4 separate regions of the Homo sapiens genome follow, and regions 2, 3 and 4 are each linked to region 1. Evidence: fine-mapped expression QTL. A gene starts in region 1. Each other region holds a variant in brackets. All regions are shown on one strand. Distances are between the middles of the regions.

Evidence for each region. PIP is the estimated chance that this variant, and not a neighbour inherited with it, causes the effect.
Region 2: its variant is fine-mapped to the expression of IPO8 in whole blood (INTERVAL, PIP above 0.99). The same link has a PIP of 0.9 or more in blood mononuclear cells.
Region 3: its variant is fine-mapped to the expression of IPO8 in whole blood (TOPMed, PIP 0.94).
Region 4: its variant is fine-mapped to the expression of IPO8 in whole blood (INTERVAL, PIP above 0.99).

What each region holds. Positions count from the first base shown.
Region 1 is chr12:30,692,838-30,699,179 of GRCh38, reverse strand. It overlaps IPO8 (importin 8), which reads left to right and starts at 3,311. Exons shown (of 25, transcript NM_006390.4): 1 at 3,311-3,616. The coding sequence starts at 3,533. RefSeq lists an enhancer at 2,922-3,421 and a silencer at 3,512-3,561.
Region 2 is chr12:30,659,161-30,665,235 of GRCh38, reverse strand. IPO8 (importin 8) reads left to right here. Exons shown (of 25, transcript NM_006390.4): 13 at 1-16; 14 at 1,582-1,747; 15 at 2,749-2,909; 16 at 3,970-4,095. Among named protein-coding and RNA genes, the nearest start is that of IPO8, 34 kb to the left of the region's middle. The variant T/A (reference allele first, on the strand shown) is at 3,013.
Region 3 is chr12:30,606,023-30,612,364 of GRCh38, reverse strand. No RefSeq gene overlaps it. Among named protein-coding and RNA genes, the nearest start is that of IPO8, 87 kb to the left of the region's middle. The variant C/T (reference allele first, on the strand shown) is at 2,816.
Region 4 is chr12:30,626,945-30,633,286 of GRCh38, reverse strand. IPO8 (importin 8) reads left to right here. Exons shown (of 25, transcript NM_006390.4): 24 at 1,276-1,392; 25 at 2,330-4,299. The coding sequence ends at 2,427. Among named protein-coding and RNA genes, the nearest start is that of IPO8, 66 kb to the left of the region's middle. The variant C/T (reference allele first, on the strand shown) is at 3,811.

The DNA.
Region 1 (6,342 bases):
GATTGAGTAATCAAAGGGTTAGGAATGTATTCTGTAAGAGAAAACAAGAAAAGAGATAATTTAAAAATAGTATGAAATATGATACCGGATATTAGAGGCTGGGTGTGGTGGCTCACACCTGTAATCCTAATTTGGGAGGCTGAGGCTGCCAGATTGCTTGTGCCTAGCAGTTTGAGACCAGCCTGAGCAATGTGGTAAAACCCTGTCTCTACTAAAAATAAAGCTGGGCGTGGTGGCATGTGCCTGTAGTCCCGGCTACTTGGGAGGCTGAAGTGGGAGAATTACCTGAGCCCAGGAGGTCGAGGCTGCAGTGAGCAGTGATCATGCCTCTGCACTACAACCTAGGCAATGGAAGTGAGACGCCCTCCCCCAATCTCTCAATCTCTCTCTCTCTCTATACATACACACACACACACACACACACACACACACACACACGCGCGCGCGCGCGCGCGCGAGAGAGAGAAAATTTAAGTTGAGAACTAAAAATGTCTCTTGCAGTTGGTATACCCCCTAAAGAGGTCGGTGTTCATCTTTGCTTGGCAGTTTTAGTGGGAAATGAGGGGGAGAAGCCTGGGGATAGGTGGTTGAAGCATGAATGGGAAGTAAGCTGACACAGTGAATGAAGACCATTCTTTGGAATGAAGTGGAAAAGAATGAGCAATAATTAGCATTACTGAAGATTATTTTTTTGCTGGGGGAAATGTTTTTAGGCTGAGGTTGAATCAGTGGAGGAAAAGAGGCTGAAAAAGTACGAAAAAAACTTACACATTGTCAACAATGAGCACATTATAATGACTAAAATTTATTTTAATGAAAAAATGTATTTAAGAGAGGAGAGATTTATGGAACAGGGTCCTGGAGGAGATGGGAGAGAATGGGGTTCAGACTGCAGAGGAGATGAAGAGGGATAAGCGGAGATGAATTTGTTGTTGAGTTGAGCCTGAGGGTTTTGCTCATCTTTGCAGGGTTTGGTGAGAAGGCGTAGGGAGCTTGAGAAGAGTCCTGAGAGTTGAAACGCCACTGAGGGAATGGAAGATGTTGCTGATTAAAGGCAAGGAATAGGAATAGGATGGTTGCATCTGATTAAAGAATACATCTGATATCAGTTTGCACAGTGGGTCAAGGCTAGAGTTAAGAAGCTGAATTGGGGGTTTAATAGCAGAGAATGATGTGTAGTGAGTAATGGATAGACTAAGAACTGAAGTAGTGATTGAATTGGAAAACAAGCTTAGAATTTTTGAGGAAGAGAGAAATGGAAGAATTAGTTCTAATTATAAAAGAGGATATTGGAGTTAAGATTTTCAGAGATAAAAAATTTTTTAGACATTCATGATGTCCAAGAGAGTGGTTTAGTGAAATAGTGTTCATAAGACTCTGGAGTGCTAAGTTTATATTTTATTTTGAAATTGATGAGAAATCAAGGAAGAGACATAGTAATATTAACTTTTCAGAAACTTTCTTCTGATGATAGTGTGAATAATGGATTAAAGAGGGGCAATACTGGAAGCAATTAGACATGTTAAATTCACTGTGAAGCACTTTTGCATCCAACTGAGGGGGAAGCTTTCAAGCCACCAAGTTTTCAGCCACATGTTTTCTACTCTCTCAATTGAACTCAGTTAATTGACCCAATCTATCTTAATTATCTGCTCCTGAAAAGATCACAGCCCCTCAGCTGTGTTTTGCCCACATCATCATCTTTATTAAATGTAATTAGAACCCTCTCTTCTGGGTTAACCTCAGGAAGAACCAGCTCCTTGATATTTTCATGCCATTGAAATTGTGGCGCCAGATATGGCCACAGTGGATAGAAACAGTATAACTTTTCTGCTTACCTTTCACTACATTTTTGAGAAGGTCTGAAAATTTTTCATAAAACTCTCAGGGATGTAGTTTTCAGTTTCTGTGACCTTTGTCTTTCTGAAATGGGAGAGGTTCCCTTGTCCCCCTCACAGGGCGTGCATTGGGGGTGTGGCTCGCTTCTTCAGTGCCCCGCTGCTCAGACCTCTAGAGAAGCATACAGACCGGCAGGCTGTGGGGCTCCGACCCCTTGACAGAGTCTGGGGGTGAATGTTTACAGCTCCTGAAGCCCCAGTGGGTGTGTGTTACAGGATGCTCTTTCAGTTTGCCTTTAGGGGGCTTGTGTTAACCAGCTCAATTAGACCCTCTACCTTGTCGCACAGACAGCGAGCTTTCTGTATCCTGGGTTCTTGCCTTGGTGTACCAGAAGAATTGGATCACACGTGGGCTTGGAGAATGAGTGCAAAGTTTTATTGAGTGGAAGTAGCCCTCAGCAGATGAGGGACCCAGAAGGGAAATGGTTTTCCTCTGGAGTTAGGCCGCTTGGCGGCCCGGGCTCTTTTCCGACTGCCCAGGCCAACCTCCGCATCGTTCTGCCCGTGAATGGCCTGCGGATGTGCCAGCGAGCTCCTCTTCTTCCACCCTTATGCTCCTCTGGACGTCTGGCTGCCTGTGTACCTGCCTGCTAGGGTCTGGGGTTTTCATAGGCACAGTATGGGGGAGTGGCAGGCCAGGGTGGTCTTGGGAAATGCAACATTTGGGCTGGAAGGCAGGAGTGTCAGTCCTCACCTAGGTCGGTGGGCGTGGAGCCCTAGCAAGGGACCACACACTCCTCTACCCAGCACTTCACTTCGCCCATCCCTATCATTTAAAGGGACCACGCTCTTCCCTTCCCAGCACTCCCCTATCATTTCTACACTGTAAATTTTTTTTGTTTATATTTGTCTCATCTATCAGGTTGTGAATTCCTTCACATTAACTTGCATGGAATTCATCTTGTTATAATGTGGTACCTAAAAATCCTAGTACTCTGGTTCAAAAATATATGTTTAACAAATGTTCAGTGAAAGCGAATGAATGAATGAACGATGACTCCCACACACGGAGGAACCCTGTCCTCCTGTAAGGTACATGATTTGAAGGTCCCAACAAGTCTATCTTGGAACAGGCCCAGTTGCGATGCCCATACAGTTCTCGGACTAACAAAAAGTGTCACACCATCCAGATATGCTTAATTTGGAAGCAGCTGTAAGCAGACTCCCGGCCAGCTCAAGTTTCCTCACCTGGGAAGAGGCGGGAGGCTGTTTACCGTACGGAAGCATAGCGGCCGCCTGCCTGAGTTCGGGAGCGCGGGTTCCTTTCCGGGAAAGAAGCCTAGGCCGTTTTCCGTACAGCAGCATGGCGGCCGCCGACGGGAGGCGGTCATAGCATCACGCCCGGGGGAAGAGGCCGCCGTAAAGGAAGCTCTGCTTCCTCTTCTTCCTTCTCCCGCCTCCCACCGGCTGTCGTAAAACGGTGAATGGAGAGCGAGTTGTGGGGGGGAAAAAGGGAGGACAGGGGGCGCGGAGTCAGAGTGGCGCAGCAAGTGGCCGCAGGTGGCGACGGTGGCGGGGGGTGGGGTGTGAGGTAATCCAGGGGTCGCGGAAGAGGAGGCTGAGAGGGTCAAAAGAAAACTAAAGCTGCAGTCCGGCCTACTGTTCCGGGGGCCGCGGAGCCCCCACCCGGGGAGATGGACCTCAACCGGATCATCCAGGCGCTGAAGGGCACCATCGACCCGAAGTTGCGGATTGCAGCCGAGAACGAGCTCAACCAGGTGAGGAGAGGGTCTTCGGCGACCCTCTTCCGCCGAAGGGGCGCCCCTGCCGGCTGGCCGGGCTCCCTCTCCCCGGCGCCCCTCGTCCTCACCCCCACCGGGCTGGGGCTGACGCCTCACGGCTGGTCCCGCTCTCCGACCCCGCTGCCCCCCGGTCCAGTGGAGCAGGGCTCCCAGGATCTTTGCCGAACAGCTCGCGCACCTGTTGGCCACCTTTGCACCTTTTCGTGTCGTCTCCCTTCTCCAGGGCAGTTTGTTCTGCCTACTTGGTCCGCAAGAAGCAGTTTTTGCAACCTGTGCTAGTGTTTTCAGGGTGTGATTTATTTTCCTTAAGTGCGCGGACTTGGGGAGCAGGTGGGAATTTTACTTACAGTTCAAATCTGAGTTCAGCTTTTTTCCAAACCCAGCCCTTTTTAGGTGTTGCTGTGGAGCACGCTGCCCACCGCCTCCTCCTGTCGGGTTGGCAGGACTGTTTTGACACCGATTGGCCGAGTTTTGCGGAGCGCTGGGCAGTGCTGTTGGGAGAGTGCTCTGGGAAGAATAGGCAGTTTTCATGGTGATACTGCTTTATCTAAGACACATCAAAGTAAGATGTGTTGGAGAAATTTCTTATGAATGCTAAAATGTGTAAGACTTCTTTCTTTTCTCCGTCTCCTGTTCTTCCTAATTAGCCTTGACGTCTTTCCAGCGTTACCCCCACACTTCAAAATTTTAATGATCCCAAACTCCAGCTTATTTCTTCTTCCCTACCGGTACTTAAGAATCACAGACCTCTTACTAAAAAGTAGGGATTAAGAGCTACCACTGGGATGGAGCAACAGCTGTTTTAGGTTGTGATGACTTGTAAAATGTAAATATTCCAAAATCAGCTGTTCTCAAAGCGTTGCCCAGGACCTGGAGCTTCAGCATCACCTGAGAACTTACAAATTATGCAAATTACGGGGCTTCAGTCCAGACTTAACGAATCAGAAACTGTGGGGGTGGGACCAGTTGTATTTTAACTAGCTCCCCCAGGTGATTCTGTGCCTCCCGAAGTGTGACTGAAGTGTGACTGTCCTAAGTAAATGTTTCTGTTGGAATTGACTTTAAAAAGCTGCGTGTTGGGAATCTTTGAAAGGGATTATTTTAATAGGAAACCTAGGTGGAGTTTGGAGTAGGTATAAATGCAGGATTCCCCAGAGATAAAAGGGAGAGTGAAGACACTGCCAATGGAGAGGAGGTTGGGTTGAACTAATGCCCAAAGATAATGCACTGGTGCCTGAAAAAGAAATGGACTGTCACTTAGAATAGGGGGAAGTTAAAGTCAGTACCTGTCCCAGGCTTTGCAGAGTAAAAGTACTGTATGTTGGCTGGCTGGAAGAATAGTAATCCAGGGGTTAGTTAGGAAGAACAAAGCAGGAGCTGAATTTGCAGTCTACTAATATGAACAGGGGAGTTGGCCTGTTTATGACCCCCTTCTCACAATGAGGCCAGGTGTTCCTTTGATATCAGGTTACACTTCCCTGCCCTTCACCTAACCTTCATTTCTTTCTGATTCATCAGTATATAAGTACAGTTGATGTTATAGAAGTGGAAAAAGTATATGAGAAAGCCTGCAGAACTAGGAGACATTTAAGACCCAATCCTATTTTTTTTCCCATGGTATTTCAGACAAAAGCAGGCACGTTCAGGGTGGTATGGCCGTAGACTCTTGATGGTAGTTCAATCCAAATCCATTCCATCATCACTCTGCCCTGCCCCATAGTGTCCCACCTCATCACAGACCGTGGTTTCCCCAGCAATTTCTAAAGGTAGCTTATTGCTATACCACTCATTTAGCATTTATAATTTATATAAAGCATAGTGAAATGCTTTAAGGTTTTTTGAATTGGCTGTAAATAGAACAAAATATAATGTCACCTAACAGTGTAGTAAAACATGCTTATGATGATGGGTTTTGCCTGCTTGTCCTTTGCCACCACTGTAACATCCGACTTTGTTGGATAAATGAGTGGGTAAATCACCATAAGTGGTTATGGTCCACCTCTTCGACTTTAGTCTAGGTCTCCCCTCAGCAAGTATGTTCTGCATAGGGAATGGGAGCAGCTTCTGCGGTATACTGATGGATCTGTCAATTGCCGTTTAGAAAAATAAGCAGCTTCTGCACCACAGCCTATATTCCAATGGATAAATTCTCATTTGGAGCTATATATTTTTTTCAGGCCAGCATTTTTCTGTTACTAGTGAGTAGTTTTCTGACTGCTATTTGTGATATTGTTTCTGTGGGAAAATGTATTTGTAGTTTTATCTCAGGATATTGAGCGAACCCTATACATCTTCCTCATTTTCTATAGACCAGAAGTCCCATTAGAGGCAGCATAGAGGAATAGGAATGGGTAGGTACCTTGCTTAAGTAATTCATCCAGAAAGGTGTCCTCTTTTAATAAATTATCCTTCACATGGCCTCGGTAGGGAAATAAGTTTTTACTTTGATTGCCAAGCTTTTGAATCTCTGCTTTCCATGCATGTGTACATGCAATTTTCATTACCCTTTATTAAGATAATTTGTTTATGTAAATAGCACAGAAATATTTATTAAGTTACTATGTTGCAGATATTGGTATAAGAGTTTGTTTCCATGGAGCTGGGGATACAGGCAAGTAACTAATATAATTTCAGGTCATAAGTGCTGTGGAGAGTAAAGCCCGAGCAAGAGTGTTGGGATGTATAGCCATTCTCTGAAGAAT
Region 2 (6,075 bases), 34 kb after region 1:
ATATCTTCGAGCTAGAGTAAGTTTTTCATATTTCTGTTATGTATCTTAAATCTTCATAAGATAATTATTCAAATAAATGTTTTTTGGATAAATTGACCTTTTGCCACATATTGAGATGAAATAGAGTCAATTAGAATGTCTGCCTATGGTCACATCAGCTGAATAAAGGACAGACTATTAAAGAAAAAGATTTATAGGCTGGGCGCAGTGGCTCATGCCTGTAATCCCAGCACTTTGGGAGGCTGAGGTGGGCGGATCACTTGAGATCGGGAGTTTGAGACCAGCCTGGCCAACATGGTGAAACCCTGTCTCTACAAAAATACAAAAAATTAGCTGGGCTTCATGGCAGGCGCCTGTTATCCCAGCTACTAGGGAGGCTGAGCCAGGAGAATTGCTTGAACCCGGGAGGCGGAGGTTGCGGTGAGCTGAGATCGTGCCACTGCACTCCAGCCTGGACAACAGTGAGACCCTGTCTCAAAAAAAAAGGAAAATATTTATGGATTTTATTTCCTGCTGGTTTTATTTCATTTGTCACCCTAGCCTCACTTGCTGCATATGTAAAACATGAAATGAGAAAGGTGATTTTATAGCAGTGATACAATTTAAATTCACAAATGGATTTATTTTGTGTATAAAATGACATGAAATTCCAGATTGGCTAAGAACTTGAATTTGATTTTCAGTATATTAGGTAGATTTGCCTTAGTAAAATGGAGAGATTAATAATCCATGTGAAATTGTGCTCTATGTGTATATTCTTTTAGAATCAATATATTTTATGGAGAAATAGAAACAGGACTTTTATTCAAGAGCCTAGCATTTCTCTTTATAAATATATCAACACAAAAATGTCTTGCTAAAAACAACATATATTAACAATGCCTTGTACACTAGAAAGCATTTTATAAAATAATAGTTACTAGCGCAATATCTGGGCAAATGTGGACTAGGGACGCTGAGGGCACATGAGCATTTTTACAGTGGGGCTCCTACCTTTGAGAAGTTATATGAATTGTGATTCTCTTGCTAAAAGTCTTTAGTAACTAGAATTAATTTCTGTTGATTGTGTTTGATGCACACAGAGAGTAAAATATAATAATGATTCTGTGGTCTAATAGTTAAAATGTGATCATCTATACCAGGTTTAAAATTTTTGGTACCTATGAGAGTGAAAAAAAGGAAGCTTACTAAACCAGTTAGTGTAAGGGAAAATAATGTTTTACCTAAGTGTGACAAATGAATTTCAGATACTGGTTTGGAGTTGCTTTTACATATAACAAATTAATTATGAGTTATAATATTTATTAAAAGCGTAAATAGATTTTTGTCAAAGACATATTTGGCTTCTTTTTCTCTTTCCTATGAAAAATGTTATTGCATATGGGTAATTTAGAAGTAATGAAAATGCCTTACTTGTAAAAAGGGGGATGTAGAAGTTAGAAACTAAGGCTACTGTGTTACCCCAAAAGCAAACATTTCTTCATAGAATTGATATTTTACTAAGAAGTTCTTATATCTGTGATATTATTACAGAATGCTATAATCCTAATAGCTCCCTACTTACCTTTTTTAATAATACAGTCTTGCTGGGTACTTCATGCATTTAGTTCTTTGAAGTTCCATAATGAGCTCAATCTAAGAAATGCCGTTGAATTAGCGAAGAAGAGCCTGATTGAAGATAAAGAGATGCCTGTCAAAGTTGAAGCTGCCCTTGCTCTTCAGTCTTTAATTTCTAACCAGATACAAGGTAAAGCCAAAATACCTTTTAGACATCTTCTCAAATAATTTCATTTACTTTCTTCCCTAATGAAGATGCATCTCCATGTCTGAGGGTTCAGGGTTTGGAATTCTGAGGTTTTGCCCTCTCAGAATTTTGTAGGAATTTATTCTTGTCCTTTTTAGGTGTTCCTATTGACTGTAGTTTTCAGAATTTTAGGTTAGGAAACATGTTAATCATTGTGGGGCCCTAGGATAGGCTGGGCATAAAGAGACCTGGGCCCAGTTTTGATTTTGCTCCTAACTTGCCATGGAAACCTGGGCAAGGTGTGTGATCTGTCAAGGCTCAGGTTTCCACATATTTAAGTTTAGGGGAGTTGGACTGAATGACTTCATGATTCCTTTCACCTCTGGGATTCTGATTCCCCTAGTTTTGAAAGTAGCAAGTAGTATTTCTAGTGAGTGATAACAGACGTCTCATTTGTTCAGTGTTCTGATCAAAGTTCAAATAAACCTTTGAAAGTAAGTTCAGCTTTATGAAGAACGTGAACGTAGTTTGCCTCTATTCAGCAATGTTTCAGTGGGAGGATTGGATATTGTACACATGGCAAGGGAGGGTGGTAGAGATGGCCTGGGGCAGGGAAGGGGCCCCATCAGTATTCGGGATAGTCTTCACGTACATGATTTTTTATAACTTGTCATGAGAACTGATTCATGTTTTCCAAGTCATTCTGATGACCAAGTGTATGTATAATTAGAATTTCTCAGTGGGGGCTATTAGTATTTTGGGATAGTTTCTGCACAGGACAGTTCTCTCCTGTGCAGGACTTCTTATCCTTATATTACTCTTGGGAAACTGATATATTGGTGAACATTATTTAGGTACAGCTTTGTAACTTACCACAGAGCAAGTGTGTATCTAGAACCTGATTTAGGTATTACCCTGGGTCACTTGACCTTGTGACCAAGTTAATTCCTTTTATCATCTGGGCATGGTAATTTTTATTACTTTTGTTTGTTTTATTGAATTAGCTAAGGAATATATGAAGCCACATGTGAGGCCTATTATGCAGGAACTGTTGCACATTGTTAGAGAGACAGAAAATGATGATGTTACTAATGTCATCCAGAAGATGATATGTGAATACAGTCAAGAGGTAGCCTCAATTGCTGTTGATATGACCCAACACTTGGTAAGACCGGGCAGTTTTATGTTAATTTGGTTTAGAAACCTTGAGTAATCTAAATAAACTCCAAAATATGGAGTTCAGTTTTATTTGTACAGTCATGTGCTGC[T/A]TAACAACATTTCAGTCAATGACAGATTGCATATACGATGGTGCACTCCTAAGATTATAATACCGTATTTTTACTGTACCTTTTGTATGTTTAGATACAAATAATTCCATTGTGTCATGATTGCCTAAGTATTCACTACATTAGCAAACTGTATAGGTTTGTGGCCTTGGAGCAATAGGCTATGCCATCTAGATTTGCCTAAGTACATTCAATGATGTTCAAGCAAGGATGAAATTGCCTAACGACACATTTCTCAAAATATATCCATGTTAAGCGATGCATGACTGTAACTGAAATATTGATAAAAAAATTATTCTGATATTACTATAGTTCATTAGACTTTAATCACATTTAGGATAATTTCTTTCATCTAGAATATTCTGAAATTTTATAATATGTGCTTTCTAAAGTTTTAATTTCTGGGCTTTGAATCAGGAAGCTCATTTCCTTCAGTTTGGGGCAATTTATTGTTTTACTTTTTTGATAAATTTCTCCTTACTATTTTTTTTTCTGTTTGTATTTCCTGATATGGAGAATCACATCTGGACTGTGTCTCTTAATTTTTTTAAAAACTTTTCCTCCTGTTTTCCATGTCTGTTTTTTTTTTTTGTTTGTTTCATTTTCTAAGTGATTCCTCGACTTCTCAATCTTCTATTGCATTTTTCTTTTTACTATTACTTGATTTCACTTGTCCTAGATTGTGATTTTACTTGCTTAGTGACAACCAGAAGTTAAATATTAGCTCTCTGGATATAATAGTTAATGTAAATAGCTATATTTAAAACATGACAAGTTCTGTTATTTTAAGAAGAGAGATGATTCAGTCAGCAAAGTGCAGACTTCAAAGTTTGAGCAATGCAGACTTCAGATGTGTGACACTGCCATTTTGCTAACTTTTGTAAAGCGGGGACGTAACAGTACTACTAATTGCGGAATACTTTAATGTTATTTTCATAGGCTGAGATATTTGGCAAAGTTCTTCAAAGTGATGAATATGAAGAAGTTGAAGACAAAACAGTAATGGCTATGGGAATTTTACATACCATTGATACTATCTTAACAGTTGTAGAAGATCATAAAGAGGTGAGATTTCTTTGTGGTTTATGATATAATAGTAGCATTTAACTGAAATTTATGTGATCAGTGGCCATGAATTTTGAAGTCTCCACTTTTAAATTGCTACTTAGTTATGTTGCTAGGCTTTAAAAATTGCCCTCACATTTTATGGAAACATATTAAAATGACTGAGTAACATTATAATATTACATCATAATATTTGTAATATTATAATGTAAATATTATAAAGTATATAGTATATCCCTTTATATTAACTTGAGTTCAGTTAATCATATCTGCTATGTGCCAGGCTAGGTTCTTGGGGAATACCAAATTGAATAAGAAATGAGCCCAGCTTTCTGGGAACCAACAATCTAGAATTCTTGGTAGAGAGTGACAGACAGCAGTTCAATCACAGTGGCAAGTGTTAGGTAATGGAACAGAATTCTGATATAACAAGTACTGTAAAAATGGAAAGGAATAAATGAAAGAGCTGAAAAGCATATTTACTCAACTGAATTCCAAAGTGTTATTGGGATAAGACTTTATACAGCTATTTATCTAGTGCTTTCACATCCATCAGCTGATATGATCTTACTGGTGCCACCATGACATAGCTAGCACAGGTAATGGTAGTCTGTTTTGCAGAAGCAGAAAACAAAGTTCAGGTGGATTTAAGAAACTTGCTCATGGTCCCAGAGCTAGTAAGTTGTACATTTGGGTTTGTAGTCACATCATTTTGATAATGTATCAGTTTATCCCCATTTAAAACCTACAGCTGCTTCCCAAGTATCCCATGGCCTCTCCTTAACTCAAATTAGATTTTTGTTCATTGCTTCTGTGAGTGCAAGTTGACTTGTTTGGCACTGATGGCAATTATTGTTTTACAAGGTGAGCACTTAGGAAGCAGGTGCTAGTACTACTTTTATTTGTTTATTTAATTTTTTGAGACAGTCTCACTCTGTCACCTAGGCTGGCGTGCAGTGGCATGATCTTGGTTCACTGCAACCTCCACCTTCCGGGTTCAAGCAATTCTCCTGCCTCAGCCTCCCGAGGAGCTGGGACTACAGGTGTGTACCATCACACCCAGCTAATTTTTATATTTTCAGTAGAGATGGGGTTTCACCACGTTGGCCAGGCTGGTCTTGAACTCCTGACCTCAGGTGATCCACCCGCTTCAGCCTCCCAAAGTGCTGGGATTAAAGGCATGAGCCGCCATGCCTGGCTGCTACTACTACTTTAAATAGCATTGTTAAACCATGTAGCTGTTGGGTTTTTTTTTTGATTTTGTGGGTTTTTTTTTTTTTTGTTTTGAGACAGAATCTCACTCAGTCACCCAGGCTGGAGTGCAGTGGCTCAGTTTCTGCTCACTGCAAGCTCCGTCTCCTGGATTCACGCCATTCTCCTGCCTCAGCCTCCCGAGTAGCTGGAACTACAGGTGCCCGCCACCATGCCCAGCTAATTTTTTTGAATTTTTTTTATTAGAGACGGGGTTTCACCTTGTTAGCCAGGAGGGTCTCGATCTCCTGACCTCGTGATCCGCCCACCTCGGCCTCCCAAAGTGCTGGGATTACAGGTGTGAGCCACCGTGCCCAGCCGTAGCTGTTGGTTTATCCTGTGTTTATGACGTGCCAATGGAAGATGACTTGGTTTTTTTTTTTTTGTTTATTTGTTTGAGACAAGTCTTGCTCAGAGACAAGTCTTGCTCTGTTGCCCAGGCCGGAGTGCAGTGACACAATCTCAGCTCACTTCAACCTTGGCCTCCCGGTTCAAGTGATTGTGCTGCCTCAGCCTCCCGAGTAGCTGCCTGCCACCACGCCAGGCTAATTTTTGTATTATTAGTGGAGAAGGGGTTTCACCATGTTGGTCTGGCAGTCCTGGAACTGCTGACCTGAAGTGATATGCCCGCCTTGGCTTCTGAAAGTGCTGGGATTATAGGCATGAGCCACTATGCCCGGCTGACTTGGTTCTTAAAAATGGCTTGATAAGGCCCGGCGCGGTGGCTCA
Region 3 (6,342 bases), 87 kb after region 1:
ACCCATGAAACCACCACCACAATCAAGGTAATAGACATTTCTATCACCTCAAAGTTCCCTTGTGCCTATCTCTTTTTTTTAGTGGATTTTGTATGAATGTTTAACATGAAATCTACCCTCAACAAATTTTTAAGTGCACAATACATCAACCTGACTTGTGAATAGCATAGGAATTGGGTTTGTGACATAGATTTGTGACTCAATCTGAAAATGTCTTTTCTTTTACTAGGTAAAAGACTTACCTACATTCATTGGTATGGTCAATTATAGTTCTATAGTCTTACATGTGTAACATTTAAAAAGTCTCTCCTTTGTGGTCTCTCTCTCTCTTTTTTGTTCTAGTGGCTGCATATTACACCATAATCATCATCTTCCTCCTCCTCCTCCTCCTCATCGTGGTCTTCTTCTTCCTCTTCTTTCTTCTCCTTCTCTTCTTCCTCTTCCTCCTCTTCCTTCTTCCTTCCTTCTTCTTCTTTCTTTCTTTTTTTTTTTTTTTTTGAGACAGGGTCTTGCTCTGTTGCCCAGGCTGCAGTGCAGTGGCACAATCTTGGCTCACTGCGGCCTTGACCTCGAGGGCTCGAGCGATCCTCACACCTCAGCCTTCTGAGTAGCTAGGACCACAGATGCATGCCACCATATCCAGCCTATTCTCTTCTTTCTTTAGAATTATCTATAATTTGGCTGTGTGCGGTGGCTCACACCTGTAATCCCAGCACTTTGGGAGGCTGAGCCGGGCAGATCATGAGGTCAGGAGACGGAGACCATCCTGGCCAACATGGTGAAGCCCCATCTCTACTAAAAATACAAAAATTAGGTGGGCATGGTGGCACGCACTCGTAATCCCAGCTACTTGGGAGGCCGAGGCAGGAGAATCGCTTAAAACCAGGAGGCGGAGGTTGCAGTGAGCCGAGATTGCACCATTGCATTCCAGCCTGGTGACAGAGTGAGACTCCATCTCAAAAAAAAAAAAAAAAAAAATTATATCTATAATTTTCTTAATGTAATTAGCATTAAAATTAACTTATATTCTTTTCTTCCCTCTTCATCCCTCCCCTCAAATATACAATTTTAGTTGATAATACTGTCTTTCTTAGTGTTTACTTTTGTATTGTTAAGTATGCTATACTTCTAAAGCTTGATTTTTCAACTTGATTTATCTCTTGTTTGCCAGGTATAATTGATGAAGCAACTAGCGAGCTTATTCTTTCCTCCACCTTTTCTTTCCCCATCTTTGCTTTTTAAAAAAGTTTTATGTCGTCAAATCTTATATCACTTTCATTCTATTCTGTCACCTTTATTTTCCCCATTGTTTTCATCTTATAGCTTACAGGTAGATATATTTGATGCCCATGAGAAGTCCTTTTGTTGAGGTTTCCCTGGTCATTCATGATTGGTTAGTTTTTCCCCTAGTTTTCTTAAGAAGAATTCACATCAACAACATTCTCTGAATTCTTGAATATTCCAAGTAATTAGATAGTATTAACTGTTGCAAGAAATGAGATCAAAAGCTCTATTGCTAACAGGAGTGTCATTTGACACAACCACTGTAAAACAGGTTTGCAACAACTTGAAAACTTAAACAGCCATTATCCTATAACCTGTAAATTTCACTCCTACCAAGATAAACTCTTGCACAGGCATAAAAGGAGTCACTTACAAGACTCTCTATTACAGCACTGTTTTTATTGTGTTTTGTTTTTTAACTTTTTTTTTTTTTTTGAGACGGAGTCTCGCTCTTTCGCCCAGGCTGGAGTGCAGTGGCACTATCTCGGCTCACTGCAAGCTCCGCCTCCTGGGTTCACACCATTCTCCTGCCTCAGCCTCCCGAGTAGCTGGGGCTACAGGCGCCCGCCATCGCGCCCAGCTAATTTTTTGTATTTTTAGTAGAGACGGGGTTTCACCATGTTAGCCAGGATGGTCTCGATCTCCTGACCTTGTGATCCACCGACCTCGGCCTCCCAAAGTGCTGGGATTACAGGCGTGAGCCACCGTGCCCGGCCTGTTTTTTAACTTTTATTTTAAATTTAGGGGTATATGTGCAGGTTTGTTGCATAGGTAAACTTGTGTCATGTGGGTTTGTTGCACCGATTGTTTCATCACCCAGGTATTAAGCCTAGTACCCATTAGTTATTTTTCCCAATCCTCTCCCTCCTCCTAACCTCCACTCTCAACTAGGTCCCAGTGTGTGTTGTTCCCCTCTCATGTGTCCATGAGTTCTCATCATTTAGCTTTCACTTTTAAGTGAGAACATGTGGTGTTTGGTTTTCTGTTCCTGTGTTAGTTTGCTAAGGATAATGGCCTCCAGCTACATCCATGTCCCTGCAAAGAGCATGAACTTGTTCCTTTTTATGGCTGCATAGTATTCCATGGTGTGTATGTACTACATTTTCTTTATCCAATCCATCATTGATAGGCAGTTAAGTTGATTCCATGTCTTTACTATTGTGAATAGTGCTACAGTGAACATACACATCCATGTGTCTTTATAATAGAATGGTTTATATTCCCTGGGGTATATAACCAGTAATGGAATTGCTGGGTCTATCCCATTGGTATTTCTGTCTTTAGGCCTTTGAAGAATCACCACACCATCTTCCGCAATGGTTGAAGTAATTTACATGCCCACTAACAATGTATAAATCTTCCTTTTTCTCCACAACCTCACCAACATCTTTTTTGACTTTTGAATAATGGCCATTCTGACTGGTGTGAGATAGTATCTTATTGTGGTTTTGATTTGCGTTTCTCTAATGATCAGTGATGTTGAGATTTTTTTCATATGCTTGTTTCATATGCTTGTTTGTCACATTTATAT[C/T]TTCTATTAAGCAGTGTCTGTTCATGTCCTTTGCCAACTTTTTAATGAGATTGTTTTCTTTTTTCTTGTAAATTTAAGTTCCTTATAGATGCTAGATATTAGACCTTTTTCAGATGCATAGTTTGCAAAGATTTGTTCCCATCCTGTAGGTTGTCTGTTTACTCTGTTGATAGTTTCTTTTGCTGTGCAGAAGCTCTGTAGTTTAATTAGATCTCATTTGTCAATTTTTGTTTTTGTTGAAATTGCTTTTGGCATTAATTCGCTTAGGATTATGGTCTCCAGCTCTGTTCATGTTGCTGCAAAGGATGTGATTTCATTCTTTTTATGGCTGTGTAATATTCTATGGTGTATATGTACTACATTTTCTTTGTTCAATCCACTGTTGGTGGGCACCTAGTTTGATTCCATGTCTTTCCTATTATGAATACTGCTGTGATGAACATGTGAGTGCCTTGTTTTCTTTTGAATATATATACCCAGTAATAGGATTGCTGAATCAAATGGCAGTTCTGTTTTAAGTTCTTTGAGAAATCTCCAAACAGCTTTCCACAGTGGTTGAACTAATTTACATTCCCACCAACAGTGTATACGCATTCCCTTTTCTCCATGGTCTTGCCAGTATCTGTTGTTTTTGAACATTTTCATAATAGCCATTCTGACTGGCGTGAGATGTTATCTCACTGTGGTTTTCATTTGCACTTCACAGATAATTAGTGATGTGCAACATTTTTTGTATATGTGTTAGCTGCTTGTATGTCTGTTTTGAGAAGTGTCTGTTCATGTCTTTTGCCCAATTGTTAACAGGGTTGTTTGTTTTTTTGCTTGTTGGGTTGTTTAAGTTCCTTATAGATTCTGGATATTGGATCTTTGTCAGATTTTTTTTCTGACAAATATTTGTGACTATTTTCTCCCATTCTGTAGGTTGTTTATTGTGTTGACAGTTTCTTTTTCTTTTTCTTTTGTTTTGTTTTGTGTGTGTGTGTGTGTTTAATATTTTAAGTTCTGGGGTACATGTGCAGAACATGCAGTTTTGTTACATATGTGTAAACGTGTCATGGTGGTTTGCTGCAGGCATCAACCCATCACCTACATTAGGTATTTATCATAATGCTATCCCTCCCCTAGCTCCCTACCCCCTGAGAGTCCCTGGTGGGTGATGTTCCCTGCCCTGTGTCCATGTGTTCTCCTTGTTCAACTCCCACTTATGAGTGAGAACATGTAGTGTTTGGTTTTCTGTTCTTGTGATAGTTTGTTGAGAATGATGGTTTCCAGCTTCATCATGTCCCTGCAAAGGACATGAACTCATCTTTTTTTATGGCTGCATAATATTCCAAGGTGTATGTGTGCCACATTTTCTCAATCCAGTCTATCATTGATGGACATTTGGGTTGGTTCCAAGTCTTTGCTATTGTGAATAGTGCCACAATAAACATACGTGTGCGTGTGTCTTTATAGTAGAATGATTTATAATCCTTTGGGTATATACCCAGTAATCGGATTGCTGAGTCAAATGGTATTTCTAGTTCTAGATCCTTAAGAATTCCCTCACTGAATTCCACAATGGTTGAACTAATTTACACTCCCACCAACAGTATAAAAGCATTCCTATTTCTCCACATCCTCTCCAGCAACTGTTGTTTCCTGACTTTTTAATGATTGCCATTCTAACTGGTGTTAGATGGCATCTCATTGTAGTTTTGATTTGCATTTCTCTAATGACCAGTGATGATGAGCATTTTTTCGTATGTTTGTTGGCTGCATAAATGTCTTCTTTTGAGAAGTGTCTGTTCATATCCTTTGCCCACTTTTTAATGGGGTTGTTTGTTTTTTTTCTTGTAAATGTGTTTAAGTTCTTTGTAGATTCTGGATATTAGCCCTTTCTCATATGGATAGATTGCAAAAATTTTCTACCATTTTGTAGGTTGCCTGTTCACTCTAATGATAGTTTCTTTTGCTGTGCAGAAGCTCTTTAGTTTAATTAGATCCCATTTGTCAATTTTGGATTTTGTTGCCATTGCTTTTGGTGTTTTAGATATGAAGTCCTTGCCCATGCCTATGTCCTGAATGGTATTGCCCAGGTTTTCTTCTAGGGTTTTTGTGGTTTTAGGTCTTATGTTTAAGTCTTTAATCCATCTTGAGTTGATTTTTGTTTAAGGTGTAAGGAAGGGGTCCAGTTTCAGTTTTCTGCATATGGCTAGCCAGTTTTCCCAGCACCATTTATTAAATAGGGAATCTTTTTCCCATTGCTTATTTGTATCAGATTTGTCAAAGATCAGATGGTTGTAAATGTGTGGTGTTATTTCTGAGGCCTCTGTTCTGTTCCATTGGTCTATATATCTGTTTTGGTACCAGTATCATGCTGTTTTGGTTACTGTAGCCTTGTAGTATATTTTGAAGTCAGGTAGTGTGATGCCTCCAGCTTTGTTCTTTTTGCTTAGGATTGTCTTGGCTATGCGGGCTCTTTTTTGGTTCCATATGATGTTTAAAGTAGCTTTTTCAAATTTTGTGAAGGAAGTCAATGGTAGCTTGATGGGGATAGCATTGAATCTATAAATTACTTTTGGCAGTATGGCCATTTTGACAATACTGATTCTTGCTATCCATGAGTGTGAAATGTTTTTCCATTTGTTTGTGTCCTCTCTTATTTTGTTGAGCAGTGGTTTGTAGTTCTCCTTGAAGAGGTTCTTCACATCCCTTGTAAGTTGTATTCCTATGTATCTTATTCTCTTAGTGGCAAGTGTGAATGGGAGTTCACTCATGATTTGGCTATTCGTCTGTTATTGGTGTATAGGAATGCTTGTGATTTTTGCACATTGATTTTGTATCCTGAGACTTTGCTGAAGTTGTTTATCAGCTTAATGAGATTTTGGGCTGAGATAATGGGGTTTTCTAAATATACAATCATGTCTTCTGCAAACAGAGACAACTTGACCTCCTCTCTTCCCGTCTGAATATGCTTTCTTTCTTTCTCTTGCTGATTGCCCCGACCAGAACTTCCAATACTATGTTGAATAGGAGTGGTGAGAGAGGGCATCCTTGTTTTGTGCCAGTTTTCAAAGGGAATGCTTCCAGTTTTTGCCCATTCAGTATGCTATTGGCTATGGGTTTGTCATAAATAGCTCTTATTATTTTGAGATACATCTATTGATACCTAGTTTATTGACAGTTTTTAGCATGAAGGGCTGTTGAATTTTGTCGAAGGCCTTTTCTGCATCTATTGAGATAATCATGTGGTTTTTGTCACTGGTTCTGTTTATGTGATGGATTACATTTATTGATTTGCATATGTTGATTTGCATCTCAGGTATGAAGCCAACCTGATTGTGGTGGATAAGCTTTTTGATGTGCTGCTGGATTCAGTTTGCCAGTATTTTATTGAGGATTTTTGCATCAATGTTCATCAGGGACACTGGCCTGAAATTTTCCTTTTTTGTTGTGTCTGCCAGGTTTTGGCATCAGGATGATGCTGGCCTCATAAAATGAGTTAGGGAGGATTCCCTCTTTTTCTATTGTTTGGAATAATTTCA
Region 4 (6,342 bases), 66 kb after region 1:
GGGTTATTAAAATGAACATCCTTACATGTAAATGTTTTTACTAATAAGGCAATATTAGCTTAATATATTGGCATTTTTTAGTGTTGCTACAAATAACATTAATGAAGAAAAAACTACCTAGATGTTCTTATTGAAATTCAGAGGAATTGGAGGCAGAGAACACAGGAAACTATATTCCAAAGCATGGGAAACGTAACAGCATAAACGTGGAGATGGAAATATGGAGGATGTGGCCTAGTGTAGTTCCAGACATGGGTGTGTCATAATCACCAAGGAGGCTTTTAGGTCTTGAGTAGGATCTCAGGAGATGTATTTTTAAAGATGCTTCTCAAGTGACAAGCAACTTTAAACCAGCATGTAGGGGCCACTGCTTAAAGACTGTGAAGGAACGCAGTTGGGCTGGGCTATAGTGGCCTTGAATTCTGGACTGAGGTGGTCCATCCCATTGCCCATTGGAATAGCGTTGAAAGTTGTGTTCTGAGGCGGTGACCTTTTAGATGTGGTAATTCACTTCAGGGGAGTTACCCGGTGATGGATGATGTGCAGAAAAAACTGGAAAGGACTAGATGTGGGAGCCAAGTGTTAGAGGTTCACTTTATTAATTTAGATGTATAGAGACCTGGAATGGGGAGGGTGACATTTGATGGAAAGCAGCATACAGATGAAAGACATTAAGAAAGAAGCAGAGCTTTGGGTGTGGAGAGGGCATGCTCAGGGATGTTAAGGATGCACAGTAGTGGACTGGGAGACTAATAGAACTGGTGAGATAAATGGAGAGATAGAAGGTTTGGGAGGAAATTGTTAAATTTGGTTTTAGTTGTGTTGAGTTTGAGATGAGCTATTCAAATGGAACAGTCCAGGAGGCTTAGGGGAAGGTTTTTCCTAGAGGTACAGATTTGAATCCTTGGGGTGGTAGCAATACTAAAGCTGCAGGTAGTATGAAAATTCCAGAGGAAAATGGTAACAAGTGAGTACTGGTGTTCTGGATTTTAGAGAACATCCATAGAAGACAGCAAAGGAGACAGAGAACTAGGCAGACTAGAGATTTGCAATGTCCTAACCTTCCTTTGATTTCCCACATAGCTGGGTACTAAGTGGGTACTCAGAAATAATCCTTTGTTGGCGTAAGTTTCATTACCTTGTGTGTGTTGTAGTACTGTACTCTTTGTCTCTTACTGTCTGGGATAATTTCTTTGTAATTTGATCATGTTACTACTTGTTCTGTAAATTAATAGTCGCTGTACCCTCCTGTCTTTTCCTCCCAAAATGCAACAGCTGTGCAGAGTCGAGATGCAGCCTGGTACCAGCTGCTGATGGCACCACTCAGCGAGGATCAGAGGACAGCACTGCAGGAGGTGTACACACTGGCAGAGCACCGACGGACGGTGGCAGGTCAGCCAGAGTAACCTCCAGAGTGGAGTGCATGTGTCAGAGTGCCAACAGACAGCCTTATTTGATGAGCCAGGTGGCACCTAAACACTGTTTTTGAAATTGTTAGAGACTTACCCTTTAAGATAATAAGGAATTGTCATTATTGTATGATTGTTTTAATCACTCATGATGTCTTAGCTTTGCAAAAACCTGCACATTAATATGTATTTCCTAGTGGTGTTCTCATTCACATTCTTATCCTATGTTGGAGGCAAAGGTACAAAGTAAGGGTTGGGATAAGTCTTGCCGAGGGAGACTTAATCAGTTGGATCACTCCCCTAAACATTTCAACCGTGGGCCAAAGGGACTTGACGAATTCTTGCAAGGAGCTTGTATTCCTGGAAATGGAATGCTCTCTATTTCTCATTGTTGGGCTTTATTTGACATTGTTTCTTGTTGTTGATTTTCAGTTTTTAAGCTGGAGGAATTACTCTGTGTTGATTATTGTAGTTACTTGTAGATTGTCATTGGAAAAGATTTTGTAGTTACAAAAAAATTTTAGTAGGAAACATGGCAAACTAGACATCTAGAGTTTAGAATGCTGGCTCTTCTGCATGGACTTAGATTTTCAGTTCTGTGCAGATTCTCAGTCAGCCTTCCTGATATGAGAAGTCTGGGCCCCCTTTCAGCAGTAGAGACAGTGAAGTAGAATCCACCTCTGAGACGTGTTTTCTTTTCACTCGTTTTTTGCAGATTTTCCGATGGTAGTGAACATACCACCTTATTGACATAGGTCTGTTATTCTTAGTTATTCTTTGGCAGGATAACTAATACTACCAGTCACATTCTTTCACAGTTCTAAGCATATAAAGAATCTGGCTCCTTTGAGTCATCTCCAACTTTGTCACCTTAAGCATTCTTTTTTTTTCTTCTCCCCTTTTCTTTTGAAAAATGCTAGAGGCAAAGAAGAAGATTGAACAACAGGGAGGCTTCACCTTTGAAAACAAAGGAGTCCTCTCCGCATTTAATTTTGGGACTGTGCCCAGCAACAACTGAAGGAAAGAACATCAGCTGACCAAATGTCATCGCTGCATTTTATTTCACAAGAGGAGTGTGAGGGTCAAGGGGATGAAATGAGGGGCTGCTTTTAGGGCCCTCCTGCTGTGCCAGTTACCATCTGGCATTAGGCAGCACTTTTATCTACTCTTTCCCCTTTGACCTTTGTCACCCTGAAATATATATTTTAAACAGCTACTGTAAGTATGAAATGAAAGAAAAACAATCATTGGACGGAAAAGGACAACCCATATGTTCCAAAGGCTGAATGCCCAAGGTTGTTTTAGAGGATTGGATAGACTTGCACGTCTCAGGTTTTTGCCATGCAGAATCAATGGATTTATGCGGATAACAGTGCCTTCTGTTGTACATGAATTATCAGAAAAAAATTTTTGGAGTGCATTGCAATTTTTTTTAAAGCATAAAACATATTTCTAGATACAACATAAACCTTGGTTATATGTCAACTATTCTGCATTTTACTCTGTGAATTTATTGTTAGGCAGTTACTGCAAGTCACTCTGGTTTCAAAATCTTCACGGCTCCCTCTGCTCACCCTGCTGCTGGGGGGCTTTTTTCAGGGGTTGTATTATAAAATATGCACTGGCTGTGGTTTTTCATAAGATGTTTTGTGGCTTTTTAAAGAAGTGTCTTACTCCCTCTTCTCTCATTTTTTTCTGCCTTGAAAAGGGGTGGTATTTCTTTTGGGGTCAACAAATACACATATCAGTTTCACTCCTAACCTTGTAAGTTCAGGACTCATTTTCTTGGCAGCAAGTGGCAGGGGCTCTTTAGTCACTGGAGTTAACAGTAAGTCTGAGTATATTCTGAATAATGTAATTATGCAATTAATTGATAATCATACCTAAAGCACATTGAACTTCTAAGAGACAGGTGCTACGTAAGCACACTGTCTTTCTGGATGGGGACTTGTATTTTAAATAACTTATCATTCCAGCTATGTTGGACTAGGGTCCAAAGCATTTTATAATATTTTTTTTTAATCTAGGAAAAAGACCCAAACAAATCTAACTTCTTGCTTTCTCACCTATTTGAATTTTCTCCTACCTAATTTGTTTGTGTCTTTATTATAGCTCAGTTTGACTTCTCAAACTTTTCAAGGGTTGGGGCAGCTGCACTTTTAGGTTGCCTATAGGAAATATTGCATATGGAGATTACAGTGTTTTTCTGACCTAGTTCAAGACCAGAACATGGGTCATAGGGTTTTTATTCAGCAAAATGAAAACGTATCTTCAGAACTTAACATATTACTGGATGTGATACAGATTTTGCTTTCTGTGGAATTGAAAATTCACAAAAATTCACAGCTTAAATTTCCCATCAGTGACTGGAGGAATTTTTTTCAGGTGCTTCCTATATTAC[C/T]ATCCCTCATGCATATTAACTCTTTAGAATTTTAGGTTAAGTGATGTCTATAGAAGTAGCCTGGAAAACCATGAGTTTTGGAGTTCAGTGACCCCCTGCTTTCCTCTGCTCCTCCCTTCCCAAGGCATTGAAGCTGAATGTGCCAACTGGCAGTTAGAAGCGAAAGATGGCATTGGGAGAAATTTTAGAGAGCTTTCAAACTCTTTATTCTCATGTTCCACATGGTCTAATTTTAACATAAATAATATGCCTTCACACTGGATTGTAAAAGGCATGTGATTTTTGAGATTTTATTTTGTGATGTATTGTCTTCTGCAGTATTAAAGGGAAAGAGATATTAATGTGCATTACCCTATCTTGTTTTTGAAGCCAGGGTAGTTGTATGATTTTGTTACCAGCAGTGCTAACCTGAATGTGACCTGGTTACCTTGGAAATGCAGGAACTTATATGAATGTACTATAAAATAAAATGCGGACTGATTCCCAGGATTCTGAACTTTTGTGTGTGAAATGTTTTCTGAAATGTGGAGGTGCTTTAAGCAGTTGATAATAACCCATCAGTATGTTTTCCTGACACCTGGTGACCTGAAGCAAGGTGGACTGTAGGTCTGGGAGGGTGACCAGGGCTTATCAGGAACAGCTAATACATGGGGAGAAGTAGGAAGTGAAAGCCCATCTCATGAACCAGGAGGTCCGCACAGAAGAGTGTTGGAGCTCTGGAAAGGCACAGGGCGTTCAACCACAGCAGGACCTCGAAGGAAAGGAAGATGTCACTAAAATGGTGCAATTTTCTGATGGGTCTACTATCAAATTATTACTGGTCAAAACTGGACTGGTAATACGGTAATGGATATGTTCTTAGAAATGCTTCATGGGCATTTTGTTATTGTGTGAGCATCCTAGAGTCTGCTTACACAAACCTAGATGGTGTAGCTTACTACGCACCTAGGCTACGTGGGATAGCCTATTGCTCCTTGACTACAAACCTGTACAGCATGTTACTGTACTATACTGAATACTATAGGCAATTGTAACACAATGGTAAGTAATTATGTATCTAAACACAAAAGGTACACTAGAAATGTGGTATAAAAGTTAAAAATGCATGAATGGAGCTTGCAGGACTGAAAGCTGCTTTGAGCGAGTGAGTGGTGAGTGAACATGAATGTTTAGGACATTGCTGCAGCTGCACACGACTGTAGACTTTATAAAACTGTATACTTAGGCTACACTAAATTTATAAAACAATTTTCTTCAATAATCTTAGCTTACTGTAACTTGTGAACTTTTAACTTTTTAGCTCTTTTGTAATAACACTTAGCTTAAATCACATTGTACAGCTGTACAAAAACATTTTCCTTTTAAATATCTTTATTCTATAAGCTTTTTTCTATTTTTAAAATTTGTTTACTTTTTAAACTTTATTAGCGACTAAGACACACATTAGCATAGGCCTACATAGAGTCAGGATCACCAATATCCCTGTCTTCCACCTCCACATCTTGTCCCCCTGGAAGGTCTTAAGGGGCAGTAACATGTATGGAGCTGTCATCTCCTATGTAGCAATGCCTCTTTCTGGAACACCTACTGAAGGACCTACCTGAGGCTGTTTCACAGTTAACTTTTTTAATAAGTAGGAGTATGCACTAAAATAACAAGTATAGTAAGTACTAGGTGATAGGAATTCTCCAGCTCCATTCTCTTATGTGCATACTGTCATTTATGTAGTCCATTATTGACTGAAAGGTCATGGGGCACATACTTGTACTTGCATGATGGTAAGACCCATTACATTGTTAATCAGTGAAGATTCCTAAGAAAACAGTTATTTATTTTTTTTATTATACTTTAAGTTTTAGGGTACATGTGCACATTGTGCAGGTTAGTTACATATGTATACATGTGCCATGCTGGTGCGCTGCACTCACTAACTCGTCATCTAGCATTAGGTATATCTCCCAATGCTATCCCTCCCCCCTCCCCCCACCCCACCACAGTCCAGAGTGTGATATTCCCCTTCCTGTGTCCATGTGATCTCATTGTTCAATTCCCAGCTATGAGTGAGAATATGCGGTGTTTGGTTTTTTGTTCTTGCGATAGGAAAACAGTTATTTTAAATTGTCATTAAGTAATATAATGAATTATAGTACAGTTTTCTGTTTAGCAAGGGAGACTGAATAATCCAGGCATAAAAGGGAAACTTGGCCATGTATTAGGACCATGTGCGTGCAAGTGTGTGTATGCATGAATGTTTCGTGCATTAAAAATTATTCCAGATGAGCCTTAAATAGCAGTCTTTTCTGTTCCACCTTACTCTCTCCGTTGAGACTGCTGTACAAATGCTGCCTGGGTGGATTGGGAAATTTCTAGGCAGTCTGCTAGCAAGAAAGGCTGCAAAATCAATAAATAAAGAGATGGCTTATACTCTGTAGATAGACTATGTTTGAGGAAGAAGCACAAAGGGCAACTATGGCTGTCTCACTTTGTTGCCCAGGCTGGAATGCAATGGTGCGATCACAATTCACTGCAGCT